2 separate regions of the Homo sapiens genome follow, and region 2 is linked to region 1. The links come from fine-mapping of genetic effects on plasma protein levels. A gene starts in region 1. The other region holds a variant in brackets. All regions are shown on one strand. Distances are between the middles of the regions.

Region 1 (2,908 bases):
TCAGGTAAGTACACCATATAAACTGCCCTCCATATAGGAAGGAGGAGCTCCATTCTAGAAGACATCTAAATGCTGTGCAATGGGTGGCTCAATCCCAAGAATATGACACGTTTATGACCTGTGAATCTTGAATATGATTATAGGTTATCAACTTTGTGAGATCCTGAAACTTCACTTAAAATTGTTGCCTGTAATCCCAGCTACTCAAGAGGCTGAGGCAGGAGAATGGCTTGTACCCAGGAGGCAGGGGTTGCAGTAAGCAGAGATCACATCACTACACTCCAGCCTGGGTGACAAAGCAAGACTCTGTCTCAAAAGAACAACAAATTGGTTTTTGCCTGTCACCAAGCAGGCTGTCCCATGCATCTTTCTCCCCACTGTTCCCTGCTCACTGCCAGCTGGTGTCTATTTAGGAAACTGAAACTTATGCTTGTTGCAGCCTGAGCCTAACAGAACAGAATTCATGCATATTTGTGGTCTAAAAAGGTCACATGATTTTATTACAAAATAAAGAGAAATGCTTGGGGTGGGAGAGTCTTCTACTAACATGAATAACATCAGCTGCCTTTCTACCTCCAGCAGGAACAAGGGAAGGGAGGGATTGGGCAGGGGCTATTTTCATTTTAACTCTTTTAGTAGTGCTTGATTTTTAAAACTATGTATCTGTATTGCTTTTATGATACCAAAAAAAAGTTAAAAAAATGATCAGGTGGCCAGGCATGATGGCTCATGCCTGTAATCCCAGCACTTTGTGAGGCCCACAAGACGAGAGGATGGCTTGAGCCCAGGAGTTTGAGACCAAGCTTGAGCAACATAGTGAGATTCCATCTCCAAAAAAAAATTAATGATGAGGTCCCAATTCTTGAGGATTTAAGTGTCTGATATTAAAGGAGCAAGTCAGCAAAGATTCAAATATGAAAACAAAACAAAAAACCTGGTCTCCCCAAATGGATTGCAAACACTGAGGTTAAGGGCTGAAACAATTTTTTCTCATTATCTCTCATTCTTAGGCACATATTTTGCACTCAAGAAGCTTTTCTGAAATGAACTGAATTTTGTGTGTGACCTTAGGCAATCGTTTCATCTTTCAGTAGCTTATACTTTTTAACAAAACAAGGATAATAGATTTATCTATCTTTGTTTTTAGATTTATCTATCTTTGAACATCGTTTTTTGGTGAAGATAAAAAATAATGCAGAGCAGAGGGAAAAACGTCAGATACCGAACCAACATAACAATGCCAGATTCCGGGTCTCGGAAGCTGCAGGGCAGTTTTGGGAGAGGGGCATTAGGGTTAGGGAGATAGGCTGGACAGAAGAAGATCGAGGACCGAGCAGGCGACAGCTCCTATTTCAATCTGGGGACCGAAGCTACCCTCTCCAGGGGGTAACCCCTGGGGCCAGTCGCCCTTCCCTCGGAGGAACTCTCACTCTCACCCCCACCCCTACCCCAGCACACCCTCTCAGGGCCCGTACCTGATTAGGGTTGCAGTCCCCGCGCCCTCCAATGGCTCTGGTCGCGACTTCCCGTCCCTAGTATGAGCTCGGGTACTAGAACCTCGCGCCCCGCCTACAACTTCGGCTAACCCCCCTCGGACCCGCCCCCTTGTAGTTGGCAGCGGAAGTCCGGAGCGGCCCCCATTCCCAGCCGCCACCCCGACACTGGCTGCCATTCAGTCAAGCCCTTCCCAGACTGCGAGCTCACTGGCGCCGCCGCAACTCCGCCCCTCCGCAGGGCGGGACAAGCTGAGCCGAAACCACACCTGCAGCTTCAGCGATTGGTGGAGAAGTTCAAGTAGGCACTTTCTACGAGGGGAGGAGTCCAATTAGTGGACTAGCCCAAGACTGAAACAGCTGATTTTCGAGAACCCGCGCGTGAGCCCCGGAACCGAAACTAGCTTGAGGAGCCTGGAGACGCCAAGGGCTCCATGGGAAGGGGTGGGACCGGAATTTCGACGCCTTGGGATAGGAAGAGGAGGGCTGAGGTAATGAAAACAATTTTTTTTTATTTTTATTTTTTGAGACATGGTCTCGCTCTGTCACCCAGGCTGGAATGCAGCGGCGCGATCTCGGCTCGCTGCAGCCTCGACCTCCCAGGCTCAGGTGATTCTCCCGCCTCAGCCTCCCAGGTAGTTGGGACTACAAGCGTGCATAACTCCGCCAGGATAATTTTTTGTATTTATTGTAGAGACGGGGTTTCGCCATGTTGCCCAGGCTGATCTTGAACTCCTGACCTCAGGTGATCATCCCGCCTCAGCCTCTCACAGTGCTGGGATTACAGGCGTGAGCCACCGCACCTGGCTAATAGCTATTTATTGAAAGTACTGTGATAAGCATTTTAGATTCATTGTATCATTTTAAATTTACAGGGCAACTCATTGAGGTTAAAATCATTCTATCTCCTTTAGAAACTTCAAAACTGATCTTAGTTCAAGAAAGAAGTTACTATTCAGTGATCACCGAGGCTCTAACAAGTGGAGCCTAGATTCGAAACCAAACCCTGTGACTTCAACACCCAAACATTTACGTTCTTACGTTTTACTGTACAGCCTTCCTCCTGGATAAATCAGATTAAAATTTTGAAGACATGTATATAGCTTGTCAGGGTAGTACAGTTATTAATTCTGTGGTTACCACATTCTTTTATATCTCAAGACTCCCAGCCCCAGGATCTAAGTCATAGCTCTTGATTATGGCCCACCCCCAGTAGGGAGCTGAACTTACTACTTCTGATATGAAAGAAGCCAGAGTAGTTGTTTCTTCCAAGTCACTCACATCTGAGATGGCCCTCAAACCCTCCTTGGTGGTCTCCGGCTGAGAGATGTTTGCGTCTTTCTGATCTTGGTAATACTGGATCAACTGCTGAACCCCAGACCTTAATGCAGGTTTAAGTGCAGCACTGATCGCTA
Region 2 (2,908 bases), 16 kb before region 1:
CGCATGCCATGGTGCTAGCTACCCAGGAGGCTGAGGTAGGAGGATTGCTTGAACCCAGGAGGTTGAGGCTGCAGTGAGCTGTGATTGCACCATTGCACTCTAGCCTGGGCAACAGAGTGAGACCCTGTTTAAAAAAAAAAAAATCCCCAGCAATCCTACCATCCCCAGCCTCCAGGAGTGATCTGTCTCCTAAGCATTGAGAAAGTGGAGACTAGGTAGCATAAACTAGTGTGCAAAGCTTCACACTCACATTAGATTGGCAGGATCATTTTATGGGGGAGGAACAGGTACAGCCAGCTTAGGGGCAGAGTAGGGGAGGAGACTGGTAAGAAAAAGAGGTCTACTTCCTATCCATCCCTTTCTTCAGGGTAGAGTTTCACATGGTAGGCTAAGGCAGAAAGCTCTCAACCCCTGCAGGAAAAGAAGAAATTCAGGGCTTGAGCCAGGAGTAAAGGAAAGAAGAAAGCAAGTTATCCTAGACATGAAGGAATGGAAGAAAGAAATGGAGTCCTATCCTGTGTCTGTGCTCCCCACCAAGGGCCAATGCCAGTATGCACCAGTTTAGCCTAACCAACTATTAAAATGTTGAAATCCTTCCATACTGGAAAGAAGCCACTGCCCTGAGCCCTCCAAGTACCTGTCAACTGCCCTGGCCTGCCCCCAGGACCCCTATACCTCCCAGCACAGCAGGCAGCCTCCAGGATCCTATTTAGACCTATGGCTCAGCATCTGTTCTGATTCATTGTTGTCCCCTCTGTACCCATGTTATGCTTTCACCTCTCACCCCAATGGAGTCACACAGGCCTGAGTTTGAACAGTTAACACAGCTTGGAAGGGACACATGCCTGATTCCCATCCTTGGAGAACAATATCATGCTATGAGGAGTAGGAAGGGCAAGAGATATGAAAAGAACAGAGGAAATGTGGTTCCTAGAAGTCAGAAGGCATCAAGGGTCCATCAGTGTAGAAGTGGCTGGGGCGGGAGACGTAAACCTCATCCACGGTGTT[C/A]TGGCCAGCCAACAGTGGGTCACCATTCGGCATGATTTCTTCAATCTTTACACAGTTTCTGAAGACTAGGTAATCCAGAGAGAAAAGTGAGGCCCCGATCTTAGTTAGGAGTTCCCAACCCAGCAGGGAAAGGGAGGGAGGATGGCAGGAAAGGCCTGGGAAGAGCCTGAGTGGGAACTTGTGGGATGAAAGAGCAGGGAGGTGGGGGAAGGCATGTGTAATTCCTAAAAAAAGGAATCACAGAATGGACCTCTCTCCAATGAGGAGCTTGGAGTTCAGCTTTTTCTGTAATGGGAGAGGGAGAAGAGGTAGGAAAGGGAATGTGTGCCATCTTCCATAGCTCCATCTCATCACTTACTTTCCATTGGCTCAGTGTTCAAATGTCTCAGATCACAGGGCAAATCTGGCTCTGGCACTGGCTGTGATACAGGTCCTTGGTCTGGCTCTGGCACTGTTTGTGATACCATGCATAGTGTGGGCTCTATCACAGGCTCCAGAGTGGACTCCAGCACAGACTCTAGCTCTGGCCCCAGATCCAGCCCTGCCTTCAGCAGTGGCTCTAAGTCCAGGCTGAGCTCTGGCTCTGGCACCAGCCCTAGTTCCAGCTCTAATGACTCCAGCTCTGGCTCTGGCTTAAGCTCCAGCGGTTGTTGCAGTTCATCCACCTGTCTGGATACCCAAAGACAGACAAAGGGGCAGGGCTCAGTGGTTCAAATGAAATCAGGAATGGTAGAATAAGCAGAAGCTAGTCTAAGAAGGCAGTAGGGCGGAGGGCTAAAGAGCATGGGTTTGGAATCAGGCCTCCTGGAGTTTGAATCCTGGCTGGGGGACCTTAGGCAAGTGGCCTAACTTTTCTGAGCCTCAGATTTATCATCTATAAATGAGAACAATACCTAGTAATTCTTGAGAGGCAGTAGGGTGGTTAAAATCAGGGCTACGGAATCTAACAGACCTGTATCATTAGCCACGTACCTTAGGTACAAAACTTGACTACTCTAAATCCAGTTCCTTAGCTGAAAACAGTAACAGTGTTTACTTCACAGGACTATTTTGTAGATTCAATAAAATGAGAAAATAAATGCAAACCATTTAGCCTAGTGCCTGGCGCATAATAAACTCTCAGGCCAGGCATGGTGGCTCACACCTGTAATCCAAGCACTTTGGGAGGCTGAGGCGGGCAGATCACTTGAGGCCAGGAGCTCATGACCAGCCTGGCCAACATGGTGAAACCCTGTTTCTACTAAAAATACAAAAGTTAGGCCGGGTGCAGAGGCTCACGCCTGTAATCCCAGCACTTTGGGAGGCCAAGGTGGGCGGATCATGAGGTCAGGAGTTTGAGACCAGCCTGGCCAATATGGTAAAACCCTGTCTCTACTAAAAATACAAAAATTAGCCAGGTGTGGTGGTTGTGCGCGCTTGTAGTCCCAGCTACTCAGGAGGCTGAGGCAGGAGAATTGCTTGAGCCTGGGAGGCAGAGGTTGCAGTGAGCTGAGATCGTGCCACTGCACTCCAGCCTGGGCAACAGGGCGAGACTCTGTCTCAAAAAAAAAACAAAAATTAACCAGGCATGGGTGGCGCTCGCCTGTAATCCCAGCTACTCAGTAGGCTGAGGCAGGAGAATTGCTTGAGCCTGGGAGGCAGAGGTTGCAGTGAGCTGAAATTGCACCACTGCACTCCAGCCCGGGCAATGAGAGTGAGACTGTCTCAAAAAAAAAAAAAAAAAAAAAAAAAATTCTATCCCCAGCCAAGTGCCATGGCTCATTCCTACAATCCCGGCAATTTGGGAGGCCAAGGCAGGAGACTGCTTGAGGCCAGGAGTTCAAGACCAGCCTGGGCAACACAGTGATACCCCATCCCTACAAAAAATTTAAAAAATTAGCTGAGTGTGATTGAGTGTGAT

Alleles and levels. Positions count from the first base shown, and alleles are read on the strand shown. Strength reflects both the effect of a copy and how common the allele is.
As copies of A replace C in region 2, the plasma level of the protein whose gene starts at base 1,525 in region 1 goes down (weak association).

Evidence for each region. A credible set is the group of variants that fine-mapping cannot tell apart. PIP is the posterior inclusion probability: the model's chance that the variant is causal. The UK Biobank Pharma Proteomics Project read protein levels with antibody pairs (Olink). The fine-mapping took linkage between variants from a reference panel, not from the people measured, so its PIPs are less certain.
Region 2: its variant is the best candidate, but not a certain one, in a credible set for the plasma level of the STAT2 protein (UK Biobank, PIP 0.61). The variant lies in the coding sequence of STAT2. If it changes the protein, the assay may bind it differently, which can mimic a change of level.

Annotation. Positions count from the first base shown.
Region 1 is chr12:56,358,583-56,361,490 of GRCh38, forward strand. STAT2 (signal transducer and activator of transcription 2) reads right to left here and starts at 1,525. Exons shown (of 24, transcript NM_005419.4): 1 at 1,476-1,525. APOF (apolipoprotein F) reads right to left here. Exons shown (of 2, transcript NM_001638.4): 2 at 1,986-2,908. The coding sequence ends at 2,643. RefSeq lists enhancers at 392-591, 423-592, 1,668-1,847, 1,918-2,007.
Region 2 is chr12:56,342,459-56,345,366 of GRCh38, forward strand. STAT2 (signal transducer and activator of transcription 2) reads right to left here. Exons shown (of 24, transcript NM_005419.4): 23 at 1,367-1,677; 24 at 1-1,073. The coding sequence ends at 931. Among named protein-coding and RNA genes, the nearest start is that of IL23A, 5.0 kb to the left of the region's middle. The variant C/A (reference allele first, on the strand shown) is at 1,009.